2 linked regions of the Homo sapiens genome follow. The main gene of each other region encodes a partner of the protein of the gene in region 2 in a complex. Links are inferred from orthologs where the notes say so. Each region holds a gene or a part of one and is shown on either strand. Other genes may lie near its edges.

Region 1 (7,031 bases), on a different chromosome or scaffold from region 2:
AATGCGAATTCCATATCACTTTCACGTGTCATCAAAGACTATTTTCTATTTCTCCACTTTTTTATTTATTTATTTATGTTTTGAGACGGAGTCTCGCTCTGTCACCCAGGCTGGAGTGCAGTGGTGCCATCTTGGCTCACTGCAGCCTCCCCCTCCTGGGTTCAAGCCATTCTCCTGCCTCAGCCTCCCGAGTAGCTGGGACTACAGGCGCCCGCCACCACGCCTGGCTATTTTTTTATATTTTTAGTAGAGACATGGTTTCACCGTGTTAGCCAGGATGGTCTCGATTTCCTGATGTCGTGATCTGCCTGTCTCGGCCTCCTGGAGTGTTGGAATTATAGGCGTGAGCCACCGCGCCTGGCCTCTTCATTTTTTTTTTTTTTTTTTTTTTTGAGATGGAGTCTCGCTCTGTCACCCAGGCTGGAGTGCATTGGCGTGATCTTGGCTTACTGCAAGCTCCGCCTCCTGGGTTCAAGCGATTCTGCTGCCTCAGCCTCCTGAGTAGTTGTGATTCCAGGCACCTACCACCACGCCTGGCTAATTTTTGTATTTTTAGTAGAGATGGGGTTTCACCGTGTTGGTCAAGCTGGTCTCCTGACTTCATGATCTGCCTGCCTTGGCCTCCCAAAGTGCTAGGATTATAGATGTGAGCCACTGTGCTTGGCCTTTTTTTTTTTTTTTCTTTTGAGATGGAGTCTGGCTCTGTTGCCCAGGCTGGAATGCAATGGCACAATCTCGGCTCACTGCAACCTCCATCTCCTAGGTTCAAGTGATTCTCCTGCCTCAGCCTCCCAAGCAGCTGGGATTACAGGCATGCGCCACCACTCCCAGCTAATTTTTATTTTTAATAGAGACGGGGTTTCACCATGTTGGCCAGGCTGGTCTCAAACTCCTGACCTCAGGTGATCCGCCCGCCTCGGCCTCCCACAGTGCTAGGATTACAGGCATGAGCCATCGCACTGGGCCCTTTCCACTTTTTAAAAATGGAAAAACCATTCTTAGCTCACAGCCCTACAAAAATAGGTGGTGGCCGGATTCGGCCCAGGGGCTGGAGTTCACCTAGCCTGCCCAGGCTGGTGCCTGAGTCCGCGCCCCTCACTCCTCTCCCTGTGGGTCTGTCTCAGCCCCGACACCTGGGCAGCTTCCCACTGGGTTCGTCATTGAGAGGCTCTGGGCAGGGGGCGCTGTTGCTTCACTTGGGTGCCCCTGAGTCACCCAGTGCCTGCTTGGGGTCTACAGGGTACAGCAGGACCCAGACTCGTCACTGCGCCTGGGGACCCAGATTTGGAGTGAAAGTCTGAGTTGATCAGTTCAACACAGGCAAAGCATAACCAACATAGAGGCTGGGCTCACGCCTGGAGTCCTGGCACTTTCGGAGGCTGAGGTGGGAGGATGGTTTGAGCCCTGGAGGTGGAGGCTGCAGTGAGCTGTGATCGCACCGTTGCACTCCAGCCTGGGCGACAGAGCGAGACCCTGTCTCAAGAAAATACATGTGTGTGTGCGTGTGTGTGTATGTGTTTGTGTGTGCATATACATACATGTATGTATTTTAGGATACAGCATTGCGTTTCCGGCCTCCAGACCTCCCAACAGGCGAGCCCAGCCAGGGCGATGTCTGTGGGCAGGCAGGGAGTGTGGAAGCTTCTGCTGGAACAGAAGCGCCTGCCTTGGGGCCTGGCTCTGTAGAAACAGACCCTCCTGGAGCTCACAGTTGTGGCCCATGAGAGTCAGGGTGCCGTGGGAAGGCCAGCTGGGTGCCTGCATAGGAACGGGGTCCCCGAGGGCTTCTGGGGAGAGAGGGGGGCTGGCCAGGGGCATCCATGAGCCCCCTGAGGCAGAGGCCTGCTTTGCCCGCCCCCGTGAGTCTGTGGCCCAGCCGCCCTCCACGACTTGCCCTCTTCCCCCGGCAGAACCTCAACCAGAACCCGCGGACGCTGCTGCCCAAGTTCTATGGGCTGTACTGCGTGCAGTCGGGGGGCAAGAACATCCGCGTCGTGGTCATGAACAACATCCTGCCCCGCGTGGTCAAGATGCACCTCAAGTTCGACCTCAAGGGCTCCACCTACAAGCGGCGCGCCAGCAAGAAGGAGAAGGAGAAGAGCTTCCCCACCTACAAGGACCTGGACTTCATGCAGGACATGCCCGAGGGGCTCCTGCTGGACGCCGACACCTTCAGCGCCCTGGTCAAGACGCTGCAGCGGGACTGCCTGGTGAGGGCTCGGCCCCGGCCGGGGAGGGAGGGTGGCAGGTGGGACTGCGTGGTGAGGGCTCGGCCTGGGCAGGCAGGGCCAGGGAGGGTGCCAGGCCGAGGCCCACCTGCCCTGCAGCCTACAGCAGGCCCCACCCCAGTGTGGGATCCAGAAGCGCTCAAGCTTTTATGGCCTTAACCTAAAATGTGGCCGGACACAGTGGCTCACGCCTGGGATCCCAGCTCTTTGGGAGGCAGGCAGATGGCTTGAGCCCAGGGTTTCAAGACCAGCAGGGGCAACATTGTGAGACCCCATCTCACAAAGAAAACAAAACACTTATAACATGTCCCCAGACCCAGCCCTTGGGGGTCGGGAGTGTCTGCACTGCTGAGAAGTGGTTCCTCTGGAGGTTACACGATGACAGTGGTAGAGTCCCCCCACCCCCCAGAGAAGAGCCCAGCCTTCAGATGCTGTGGTCACAAGCCCAGAGCTCCCAGCCAGCCATGAGAGCTTGCTGTGCCTCAGTTTCCTCACCCATCAAATGGGATGACTGCTTGCTCTGCAGGCCACAGTGAGGGCCCATGTGCGTCCAGTGAGGGTCTGGCTCCTGTCCCCGTGGAGCCTGCGTTGGCTCCGTGTTAGCGAAAGAATGATATGCACGGCTCTTCCTCTGCCTGGGTTAGCTCCGTCGTCCCCGTCCCACCCCGGCAGCTTCGAGGCATGGAGCCAAGGAGGGGAGGCCCCAGCCTGTCAGGAGCAGAGCCTGGGACCTCCCAGCTCCCCAACTCCACCCAGGCCCCGCTGCTGACCATCCCCAGCTCCCCGACCCCTTTGAGAACTTGACCCATACCCCCAGAAAACCGCCCAGACCACTCAGGGGCCTTGAGGCTACCCTGGGCATCCACCCACCTGGGTGTCACCTGTCAGGCCGGGCACGTCCTTGCCCATGGGCCTGGGCTGGTCAGAGCATAGGCCCGGCTCCCTGTCTCTCAGGAAGGAGTAAAGCCAGGAAGGGAAGTCCCTGTCTCAGTGCCCGGGGCAGCCTGCTGTGAGGCTGGAAGCCCCCATTCTCTGGCCTGCTCTGATGCCGCTGTGTGACCGCAGCCCCTCTGTTCCTCAGGATAACACTAGAACCCCCACTCCTGCCTGGCCGTGGGACTCCATCTCTCACACCCGAGCCCACGGGGCCATCCGTGCTGGGAACCCCATAGGGTCCGGGAGCCGTTGTGGGGGATAGAGACGGCTGACGGCGTGGCGTGTTCCTGCCCGATCCCGCCAGGTCCTGGAAAGTTTCAAGATCATGGACTACAGCCTGCTGCTGGGCGTGCACAACATCGACCAGCACGAGCGCGAGCGGCAGGCGCAGGGCGCCCAGAGCACCTCAGATGAGAAGCGGCCTGTGGGCCAGAAGGCGCTCTACTCCACGGCCATGGAGTCCATCCAGGGTGGCGCCGCGCGCGGGGAGGCCATCGAATCGGATGACACGTAGGTGGGCGGGGGGCCGCCGGACCCGTCCCGCTTCCCTTCCCCACAGGCTCCAGTTCCCCATCCCCGTCCCAAGTGTGAAAACAGGCAGGGAGGGCTGGCGAGGGCATGCGTGGGTGACAGACAGAGTCTGGGAGCCTTGTGCCAGCGCCTCAGAGCGAAGCCAGGCCGTAGTGCGGGCCGCAGGCTGAGTGCAGGGTTCCGGGCCTTGGCTTGCAATGGTGGGGGCGTTTCCCATTCACCCGTGACTGGGCCGAGGCCACTGGCCATCCACAGGAATGAGAGAGAGATAGCGTTTCCCGGTGGCACTCAGAGGGGTCTACACGCCACCCGTGCAGAGAGGGGCCACAAAGGTGTGGAAGGCGCATGGGAGGCCAGAGGGATCGGGCGAGGCAGGGCTCACAGCAGGACACAGCCCACGAAGCAGAGGGACTGCAAAATCCGATTCCACACAGATCAAAGCAGCTGCTGGCTGGGCGCAGTGTCTCATGCCTGTACTCCCAGCACCTTGGGAGACCAAGGTGGGAGGATTGCCTCAGCCCCGGAGTTCAGTACCAGCCTGGGCAACATGGCAAGACCCCATCTCTACAAAAAATATAAAATGTAGCTGGACGTGGTGGCACGTGCACCTGTAGTCCCAACTACTTGGGAGGCTGAAGGCGTGGCAGGCGTGAGCGTGGCAGGCGGAGGTTGCAGTGAGCCAAGATCACACCACTGCACTCCAGCTTGGGCAACAGAGTGAGACCCTGTCTTAAAAAAAAAAAAAAAAACGCTGGGCGCGGTGGCTCACACCTGTAATCCCAGCACTTTGGGAGGCTGAGGCAGGTGGATCATCTGAGGTCAGGAGTTCCAGACCAGCCTGGCCAACATGGTGAAACCCCATCTCTGCTTAATACAAAATATTAGCTGGGCGTGGTGGTGCACGCCTGTAATCCCAGCTACTTGGGAGGCTGAGGCAGGAGAATCGCTTGAACCCAGGAGGTGGAGGTTGCAGTGAGCTGAGATTGAGCTATTGCACTCCAGCCTGGGCAACAAGAGCTAAACTCTGTCCAAAAAGAAAAAAAAAGTGGCTGCCACAGAAGATAGGAACGGTGGTGGAGAGAGGAGGCCACATCTCAGTGGCCTGCAGTCATGTCTGCTGGACACCAGGGGCAGAGGGACCAGGCAGGCCCTGCCCTCACAGGGCTCAGGGTTTGGCTGGGGAGATACTCACAGAGCTCTCCTGGGACACTGGATGTGAGGGCTGGGTCATTCTCTGGGGTGGGGCTGTCCTGGGCACTGCAGGGTGCTGAGCAGCGTCCCGGGCCTCCACCCACTCCGGGCCAGGAGCACCCCCCAGTTGTGACAACCACAGATGTCCCCAGACATGGCCCCGGATGCGGGATAGACAGGTGTCGTATAGCAGTGCTGAGATTGTGCCCTGGTCACAGCAGCACCCTGACAGTGGGGGCAGGCCCGAGCCTTCACTTTGGTACCTGTTCAGTCTTCACAGCGGCCTTGGAGGAGGGAGGTGGGCTTCCCCTGTTTCCAGCTGAGGAAATAGGCTCCTAGGTTGGGGGGCAGCCTTCCCCAGTGCAGCCACGAAGGTGTGGAGCCAAGTTCCACCTGGCCTGGCCCCAGGGACGGTGCTGGCTGGCACTGGCTGGCACTAGGCCACCAGCTGGGCTTTGGTTTGCAGCGGTGGTGGTATTTCCCATGGATGGCAGAGGAGGAGCCGGGGCCCCAACCAGGGTGTAGCTGCGGGGGGGTGCGGGAGCCAAGGCCAGGCACAGCTCCCCCTCAGACCATCCTGGCGTTTGTAGGGTCTTCGCTGGCCTGGCGGGGGAGCAGGTGAGCGTACCAGCCTGTGGCGTGAGCAGAGCGTGCAGGGCGCCAGCCCAGCGGGTCTGGGTCCCAGTGGCTTCAGGATGACTGCTGCACGTGTGGCCTCACTAACCGCGCTGGGCAGGGGACGTGTGGGCACGGTGCCGGGTGACAGTTAACTCCCGCGCTGGGCAGGGGACGTGTGGGCACGGTGCCGGGTGACAGTTAACTCCCGCGCTGGGCAGGGGACGTGTGGGCACGGTGCCGGGTGACAGTTAACTCCCGCGCTGGGCAGGGGACGTGTGGGCACGGTGCCGGGTGACAGTTAACTCCCGCGCTGGGCAGGGGACGTGTGGGCACGGTGCCGGGTGACAGTTAACTCCCGCGCTGGGCAGGGGACGTGTGGGCACGGTGCCGGGTGACAGTTAACTCCCGCGCTGGGCAGGGGACGTGTGGGCACGGTGCCGGGTGACAGTTAACTCCCGCGCTGGGCAGGGGACGTGTGGGCATGGTGCCGGGTGACAGTTAACTCCCGCGCTGGGCAGGGGACGTGTGGGCACGGTGCCGGGTGACAGTTAACTCCCGCGCTGGGCAGGGGACGTGTGGGCACGGTGCCGGGTGACAGTTAACTCCCGCGCTGGGCAGGGGACGTGTGGGCACGGTGCCGGGTGACAGTTAACTCCCGCGCTGGGCAGGGGACGTGTGGGCACGGTGCCGGGTGACAGTTAACTCCCGCGCTGGGCAGGGGACGTGTGGGCATGGTGCCGGGTGACAGTTAACTCCCGCGCTGGGCAGGGGACGTGTGGGCATGGTGCCGGGTGACAGTTAACTCCCGCGCTGGGCAGGGGACGTGTGGGCATGGTGCCGGGTGACAGTTAACTCCCGCGCTGGGCAGGGGACGTGTGGGCATGGTGCCGGGTGACAGTTAACTCCCGCGCTGGGCAGGGGACGTGTGGGCATGGTGCCGGGTGACAATTAACTCCCCAGTCTGTACCTGAGACCCCGTGGCCCTACCTGGGCATGCAGTGTGCGTGTGTGTGCATGTGTGTGTCCAGGCACACGTGTGTGTAGGGGGTATGTGCCCAGGCCTCCTAGCTGGGACTCCTCAGCAGTGCCTGGGCCTGGGTTTGAGGCTGGGGGTGATGGAGGGATGTCAGGACAGAGGTTCCCGGGTGCCAGGCCCCACTCCGAGAGCTTGGCCAAGTTGCCACCCACAGGAGCAGATGGACTCCCTAGCCCTGGAGTCCCCAGCCCCGCCTGCCCCGAGTCCCAGCTCTGCGGGATGCTGATGGTACCCTCGGCCTCTCTCCCCAGGATGGGCGGGATCCCCGCTGTGAACGGCCGCGGGGAGCGGCTGCTGCTGCACATTGGCATCATCGACATCCTGCAGTCCTACAGGTGGGTGCCCGGGTCTGCAGTCCTACAGGTGGACGCCCCGGGTCTGCAGTCCCACAGGTGGGCGCCCGGGTCTGCAGCCCCACAGGTGGGCGCCCGGGTCTGCAGCCCCACAGGTGGGCGCCTGGGTCTGCAGTCCCACAGGTGGATGGGCGCCCC
Region 2 (7,786 bases):
ATACTTCTCCAAATAATAAGTTGTGAAGCCAGGATCCGAACCCAGGTTTCTGACTGCAAAGCCCAAGCTTTCTCCACTACGCCAGCCAGCTGGAGATGTGTCAGGGGTAGTTTTCACTCCAGGCAGAGAAATAGCATAAGCAAAGATGGAGAAGCAGTAAATCGTGGAGGAGCATTCAGGGAAGTGAGCAGGCAGGCTGTTGAAGCACAGGGGTACCTGCAAGGGAGCAGTGGTGGGGAAGTCAGGGTTAGGATGGAAAGGCAGAGGAAGACTGGAGAGGGGTATGAGGAATTTTACTTATTGGAGGACAAAAGGAAGCCAAGGGAGTCTTTGAGCAGAGAAGAGACATAACCGGAACTGGATTTTAGAAAAATAACTCTGGCAGTTACCTTGGAGATTAGTTAGAAGGACACTGTATTAGTACAAATTAAAGGTAATGAAGCCGGAGTTGGAATGGCATTGAGGAAGATGTCACTCAGAACAAGTTTGGGGAGGTAGAAATGACAGGACCTAATAACTACTAAGGTAGACAGGTTAGAGTCCCACAGCTTCCTATCATCAGCAGCCACTTTAGCGGCTGGGGCAGCTTGAGTTTAGGCGACGAATTGGGAAGAGGGGAAAGGATCAGGTTGGGCAGAGAATGTGAGGATGAGGCTGTGGTTACGGGATGTGGTTAGGCTGTGGGGAAAAAGGGTATGAGTATATGATTAGTAGCCACTAGGGGCAGATGGGGTTGGGTTAGTGACTGCATCAGGCTGGGAATGGGGAAGACAGGGTGTAGAAAAAGGATGAGAAGACAGGGTGTAGAAAAAGAATGCTGGTGATGATGGTGTTTGGAAAAATACATATACATAAGATACATATATGACCAGTCACTGCATCAGGTTGGGGGAAGGGGAATGATTACATGGATGGTGGCTAAGTCAGGGAATGATGGGGTGAGGTCAGAGGCCAGGTCAGGCTATAGGAGGTTGAGAAGAGCTGGGCCTGTGGTCAGTCACTAAATCAGACTGGGGTGGGGGTGGGAAAGTGAAGGGACATTGGCAATGTCTAAGTAAAGCTGGAGCTGGGATGGGGGATGGGGTACAGCCAGTGGCTGGGTCAGGCTGAGTAGAGGATAGTGCTGTGGTCAGTGGCAGGGTCAGGCTGGGAGTGAAGTGGGGGTGTGGTCAGTGGCCTGGCTGGGCGTGGGATCAGCAAGACCCAGTTTCCTCTTTGGGTCTCGTTTCCTCTTTTCTGTTGGGGAGTGGGGGAAGGGGATCTACAAATGGTCCAAGAAATTAAAAGAGGCTTAGATCCAGGGGGTGACACACAGCAGGGGATGGGAGTAGGGTATTCAGCAGATGACCAGGTGGAATGTAGGTACATGACTGGGTGAAAATGGTAGGAGAGTAATTTAAAATGATGGGAAAGCTCAGGTTTTGATGAGGGTAAATTCAGGTAGGATGTGCGGATTAAAGGTTGGTGAGGGAGGTAGAACTAAGGATGGGAACGGATGATAAGATGAGCATGGGAGAGTTAAAGGCAAGGGAAGTATTTTGTAAGGGGATAGGCAGGATGGGTGTGAAATGCAGAGTCAGGGATGAGAGTTGGAGAGGAGGGCTTAATACCAAGAGAACAAGTGAAGTGGGAGAAGCAGGGCTAAACTTTCAGGGGATTCAGTTATTCCCTTCTCCCATGGCAACAGTGATTCCTTGGTTAGCTTCCCCCATAGTCATCAGCTCCTTCTTCCCTAGGCAGTCCCCAACTTGTGACTAGGCCTTGTACATCCTGGGTCCCTATTTCCCACCTATGTTGTCTGTAAACAACACAGTCCAGAATCTCTGTCCCCTAACTGTGGTGGCCACAGCAAGGGCCTTGGGCTTAGAGAATGGAATAAAGAAGCTGGAATCCCAGATGCCTGCAATTCTAGCTAAAGCCAGAACGCTAGCCTGAAATTAGTTTATCTCTCTGGGTAAAAAGAAGCCCCTGTAACTACATAGGAATAAAGGATTTCCCTACAAAAGAAGGGCATTTACCTACTGCCAACCTCTTAAATTTTATCTGCTCAAGGTCAACTATGCTAGCCTCAAACCACAACCCCTAAAGCTGCCCCAAATTCCTAACATTAACCCCACCTCTAATTTGTTTCCTGATTCCCAGTACCGGCTTGGACATTCATCCCTTTCCTAGCACAGACTCATATCCAATCCCTGATCCCTGAAACTGATCTAAGTTTTGCCTTTAGCACCAAATCCCCTGATGTTAACCCTAAATGTTGACCCCTAAGCCTAAAGTTCATTTATAATTTGATTCCTAACTCACGCTTTCACTGTTTATCCTTAACACCGACCATGCCAACATTCTTTAATCCCTCAAACAAGCTCTAACCTGATTCCTGTTGTTTGTTGACCCTTAACCTGACCCTGAACTCAAATTATGACGTATGATGGCCATCCCAGCAAACAAGATAATGACCGTAATCTAAACCTTACCTATCTAAAACGGACCTGACTCACACTAACTCTTAAGTTTTAACCCCAGCTTTTAACTCCTATAGCGACCCTTGATTCCTAAACGGACCCCACCTAATCCCCAACTCACCCAAAGCTTTCCTACCCACATGCCCGCTATCAGCTAACACCAAAGCCCGTCCCCGCCCTGCGCCCCGCTGCCACCCGACTCCTCACGCTCCCCAAAGCCTATCCCAGACATAGGACTGCTCCCAGGAAAGGCCTGTCTTCCCCAAGACGGCCTACTTCACGCCGAGCTCAAGCCGAGATGCGCTGGACGCTGACCTCTCCAACTAATAGGACCCGAACCGGACACGCAAGAGAGGCAGGGCCCGCCCGCCCCGGGGCCAGGCCCCGCGGCCCCACCCTAAGGCCCCCGCCCGGCCCGGTCTGGCCTACCTGCGCTGCCTGGCTCTGCGCCCCGCCCGCCGGCCCGCCGCCCCGCCGCTTCTCGGGTCGCCCTCGGGCTCCGGCCTCGCCCTCCCTTCGACACTCTCTCGGCCACTTCCGTCCTGGGAACGTCCCCCACCCGCGGGCGGCGCCCTGGGCCCGCGCTCTATGGTCGCGGGGGGCAGGCAGGAAGCTGCTCTGGCCCCGTTCTCGATGCTCGGGAGCCGCCAAAGCCCGGCAGCCCCTCCCTGGCAGGAAGCGAGGGTGCGGCGCAATCCGGAGAGGACGCCAGGACGACGCCCGAGTTCCCTTTCAGGCTAGAACTCTTCCTTTTTCTAGCTTGGGGTAGAAGGCGGAGCCGGAGCCCCGGAACCCCCGCCCTCGGGGTGCGAGGCGGCAGCAGGGCCGTCCCCTACATTTGCATAGCCCCTGGGACGTGGCGCTGCACCCAAGCCTCTTCTCAGTTGGAGGGAACTCCAAGTCCCACAGTGCCACGGGGTGGGGTGCGTCACTTTCGCTGCGTTGGAGGCTGAGGAGAATTGAGCCTGGGAGGCGGGTCCGGAGAGGGCTATGGAAAGCCGCCGGCGGGGAATCCCGGCCGTAGAGGGACAGTGGATAGGTGCCCGAGGCCTACAGCTGGCCTGGGGCTCGTGTCTGGGCTTCGGACGTTGGGGCCCGGTGGCCCACCCTTTCCGTAGTTGTCCCAAATGGAGCTGGAATTGGATGCTGGTGACCAAGACCTGCTGGCCTTCCTGCTAGAGGAAAGTGGAGATTTGGGGACGGCACCCGATGAGGCCGTGAGGGCCCCACTGGACTGGGCGCTGCCGCTTTCTGAGGTAGGTTGGGGTTCTGACTGGGGAAAGCGTGGGATGTCCATGAAGTCAGGTGATGGTGATAAGGTCAAGGCCTGTTCATTGGAACCCTGCGCAGGTACCGAGCGACTGGGAAGTAGATGATTTGCTGTGCTCCCTGCTGAGTCCCCCAGCGTCGTTGAACATTCTCAGCTCCTCCAACCCCTGCCTTGTCCACCATGACCACACCTACTCCCTCCCACGGGAAACTGTCTCTATGGATCTAGGTGAGTCTGAAATAAGTTTGCGGGGAGGACAGGGTTCATGGGCCTGGCTATTCATACTTTCCCTTTTGCAGAGAGTGAGAGCTGTAGAAAAGAGGGGACCCAGATGACTCCACAGCATATGGAGGAGCTGGCAGAGCAGGTACTTGACTTGATTTTCAGGAGATTACTCTCACATTCCCCAGGTGGGGGCAGGATTCCCCATTCCTCTCTGACATCCCCATGCAACTGCCGTCCACTTTCTTGTTACCCTAGGAGATTGCTAGGCTAGTACTGACAGATGAGGAGAAGAGTCTATTGGAGAAGGAGGGGCTTATTCTGCCTGAGACACTTCCTCTCACTAAGGTAAGACTCTCATTGGTTGAACAAAGGCTGAAAAGGGATTAAAAGTCCCAAGTAGGCAAATTCTGTTAACTTTATATCAATAACTTTAAAAAAGGATTGAGGTGAGAAACTTAGTAGATTTATTGCTAATAGGAAGTTGAGGCAGGTACACAATATGCCAGATGCAAGGGCAGATCCTCGTTTTTGTTGGGCTTATACAAATTTTGGTGTTCTGTTAAAAAAATAACTCAAAATTATCAGTGCAACATTAGTATTGGGCCTTGGAAAGGACTGTGTAAGTGAAGGGCCTTGACACTTCGTTGGCTTCATAGTAATCCACCTCTTGCTGAATGGTAGAACTGTTTAGAGAGTTCAACAGGGTTGGACTAAGCAGTACATGAATAAATGTAAAATCCTTAGTTTTCAGTTTTAAGCAATGAGTGGCAACTTCACAAGCAGAGTACTGGGGTACTATGATGAAATCAGTGCTCATTAATAGAAAGGTTACAGGAATATATATATATTTTTTGACAAGGTCTTGCTCTGTTGCCCAGGCTGGAGTGCACTGATGTGATCATGGCTCACTGCAGCCTTGACTTTCTGGGCTTAGGTGATTCTCCCACCTCAGCCTCCCGAGTAGCTGAGACTACAGGTGCACACTACCCTGCCCGGCAATTTTTTTTTTGGTATTTTTAGTAGAAATGGGGTTTTGCCTTGTTGCCAGGCTGGTCTCGAACTCCTGGGCTCAAGTGATCTACCCACCTTGGCCTCCCAAAGTGAAGAATTTTAATTTCTTCAAAGTACAAGATGAGTCAGCAGTGTGATGTGGCTACTAAGAAAGTTCATGGGATTTGGAAACTGTAGCAATAGAGTTATTGTCTCTACAAGTCACTCTCTTGCTTTCCTTGATACTGGCTAGAGCACATCTTTGACAGATACTAAGAGGATGCAGTCTATCCTGAGAAGATGAGTTAAAAATTTTGTCTTTTTTTTTTTCTTTAAGCTCTGAGGAAATGTTAAGTGCCTTAAAATAGCTAAACAGGGTTTATTCTATTTGGCCCCAGAGATACTAGGTAAGTCCAACGGATAGAAATTATAAGGAGGCAGCTGTTGGTTCAGGATAAGGAAGTTTTTATTTGCTTGTTTGAAGACAGGTTCTTGCTTTATTGCCCAGGTTGGAGAATAGTGGCGAGATCATGGCTCACTACAGCTTCAACCTCTCAGGCTCAAGTGATCCTCCTTCCTCAGTCTCCTGAGTAGCAGGGACCACAGGCATGTGCCACCACACCCGGCTAATTTTTTATTTTTAGTAGAGACAAGGTCTCACTATGTTGCTCAGGCTGGTCTCAAACTCCTGGGCTCAACCGGTCCTCCTGTCTTAGCTCCCCAAAGTGTTGGGATTACAGGCATGAGCCACGTCGCCTGAATACTGCCCGACCAGTTTTTTTTTTAATAGTTTAAAATGGTCTGGCTTGTTAGGGTTAACACCTGGTCCGTGGAGGCATTCAGAAAGAATCTGAATGCCTGTTGGTCAGGGAAGCTGTAGAAGGGATTTCTGTATTGGAAAGAGATTGATCTCAGTTGCGTTTCAACTCCTTTTTCTAGAGTTCCTCTAATGATATCCCTTTCCCTGTTTCCTTTCAGACAGAGGAACAAATTCTGAAACGTGTGCGGAGGAAGATTCGAAATAAAAGATCTGCTCAAGAGAGCCGCAGGAAAAAGAAGGTGTATGTTGGGGGTTTAGAGAGCAGGTATGAAAGGGAGAGGGACTCTGTTGTAAGTATTAGGTTTTTGAAGGGAGGATACAGGCCATATCCCCGTATCTTTGTTATTTCCCCCAGGGTCTTGAAATACACAGCCCAGAATATGGAGCTTCAGAACAAAGTACAGCTTCTGGAGGAACAGAATTTGTAAGTATCCCTCCAAACCATTCCCTTCCTATGCCCCTCATTTAATGCTTTCTCACTCTTTCCCCTGCCCTACACTTGATTTCTAACTGGGCAGCTGCCTTCACTAGGTCTCTGATTCCAAGAAGCTCCCAGTAGTGAGGAATACATTTACAAGTAACTAAGAATAAGTTAAGTACCAAGAAAAAGAAAGGGGGTAAGAAAGACGTCATGGGCTTTCATAGTAGTTAGGATTCTGGGGTTGGGTTGGGAAAGCATTCTAGGCAGAGAGAAAGCATCCTAGGCAAGAGGACTAGTCCAGCATAGTCATCTTGGGCTGGAACTCTTAACACACATGAGCTGGGACAGAAGGTAGAGAACATAGAAAATGCCTGGTGAGGATTATGTGCATAGCTGATCAGACAGTGGGGAACGACTGATGATATTCGCAAAGGAGGTTAAGTCCTGGCAGAGTTTTTTTGTTTTGTTTTGTTTTTGCTTTTTGTTGTTGTTGTTGTTTTAATGAGGAACTTCAGGCATTTTGTCCAGAGAGGAAGAAGTCGTTTGCAAAAATAGAATGAAAAGTAAGAGAGAGGATCCAGTGCAGAGATGGAGGAGGTGGCCTGAACAGGAGTTTCACTGTGTCTCAGGATGCTAGGCCAGGGGATGCTCACTATTGGCCCCTCTCTTCCTCTAGGTCCCTTCTAGATCAACTGAGGAAACTCCAGGCCATGGTGATTGAGATATCAAACAAAACCAGCAGCAGCAGCACCTGCATCTTGGTGAGGATGGTGATGAGGGGAGAAATCCTTTTCTCAGTTGGTGGGGACAGGGCAATCCAGAGCCCTTCTTCATCTCCTTTTTCCTGTGCTCTAGGTCCTACTAGTCTCCTTCTGCCTCCTCCTTGTACCTGCTATGTACTCCTCTGACACAAGGGGGAGCCTGCCAGCTGAGCATGGAGGTAAGAGGCTTAAGGATAGCTCTCAGACAGGGCAAGGGGAGAGGTCTGGGTTGGCCTCTGAAGATTCTTTGTCTCCTCAGTGTTGTCCCGCCAGCTTCGTGCCCTCCCCAGTGAGGACCCTTACCAGCTGGAGCTGCCTGCCCTGCAGTCAGAAGTGCCGAAAGACAGCACACACCAGTGGTTGGACGGCTCAGACTGTGTACTCCAGGCCCCTGGCAACACTTCCTGCCTGCTGCATTACATGCCTCAGGCTCCCAGTGCAGAGCCTCCCCTGGAGTGGCCATTCCCTGACCTCTTCTCAGAGCCTCTCTGCCGAGGTCCCATCCTCCCCCTGCAGGCAAATCTCACAAGGAAGGGAGGATGGCTTCCTACTGGTAGCCCCTCTGTCATTTTGCAGGACAGATACTCAGGCTAGATATGAGGATATGTGGGGGGTCTCAGCAGGAGCCTGGGGGGCTCCCCATCTGTGTCCAAATAAAAAGCGGTGGGCAAGGGCTGGCCGCAGCTCCTGTGCCCTGTCAGGACGACTGAGGGCTCAAACACACCACACTTAATGGCTTTCTGGGTCTTTTATTTGTACCCATGTGTCTGTCACACCATGAATGTACCTGGGGAAATCAACTGACCTCCCTGAACATTTCACGCAGTCAGGGAACAG

The links. The genes of interacting proteins can lie anywhere in the genome.
Region 1: the proteins of TLN1 (region 2) and PIP5K1C are in contact, whole or in part, in a crystal structure (PDB 1Y19), measured with the Mus musculus proteins. The link is inferred for Homo sapiens from one-to-one orthologs. Residues at the interface, in NP_035732.2 of Mus musculus: Pro209, Val210, Gln211, Leu212, Leu214; in NP_032870.2 of Mus musculus: Pro646, Leu647, His648, Tyr649, Ser650, Ala651.

The regions. Positions count from the first base shown.
Region 1 is NC_000019.10:3,648,469-3,655,499, reverse strand, and holds part of PIP5K1C (phosphatidylinositol 4-phosphate 5-kinase type-1 gamma), read left to right. Parts: intron 1-1,910; coding exon 1,911-2,210; intron 2,211-3,468; coding exon 3,469-3,674; intron 3,675-3,749; exon of another isoform or gene 3,750-5,373; coding exon of another isoform or gene 5,374-5,504; intron 5,505-6,791; coding exon 6,792-6,875; intron 6,876-7,031. UniProt on the Homo sapiens protein: Catalyzes the phosphorylation of phosphatidylinositol 4-phosphate (PtdIns(4)P/PI4P) to form phosphatidylinositol 4,5-bisphosphate (PtdIns(4,5)P2/PIP2), a lipid second messenger that regulates several cellular processes such as signal transduction, vesicle trafficking, actin cytoskeleton dynamics, cell adhesion, and cell motility.
Region 2 is NC_000009.12:35,729,184-35,736,969, forward strand, and holds the start of TLN1 (talin-1), read right to left. Parts: upstream 3,013-7,786; 5' UTR 2,892-3,012; intron 1-2,891. Other genes in the region: CREB3 (cyclic AMP-responsive element-binding protein 3), read left to right, coding at 3,590-3,718, 3,813-3,960, 4,032-4,099, 4,213-4,302, 5,926-6,032, 6,123-6,191, 6,865-6,949, 7,044-7,128 and 1 more. UniProt on the Homo sapiens protein: High molecular weight cytoskeletal protein concentrated at regions of cell-matrix and cell-cell contacts. Involved in connections of major cytoskeletal structures to the plasma membrane.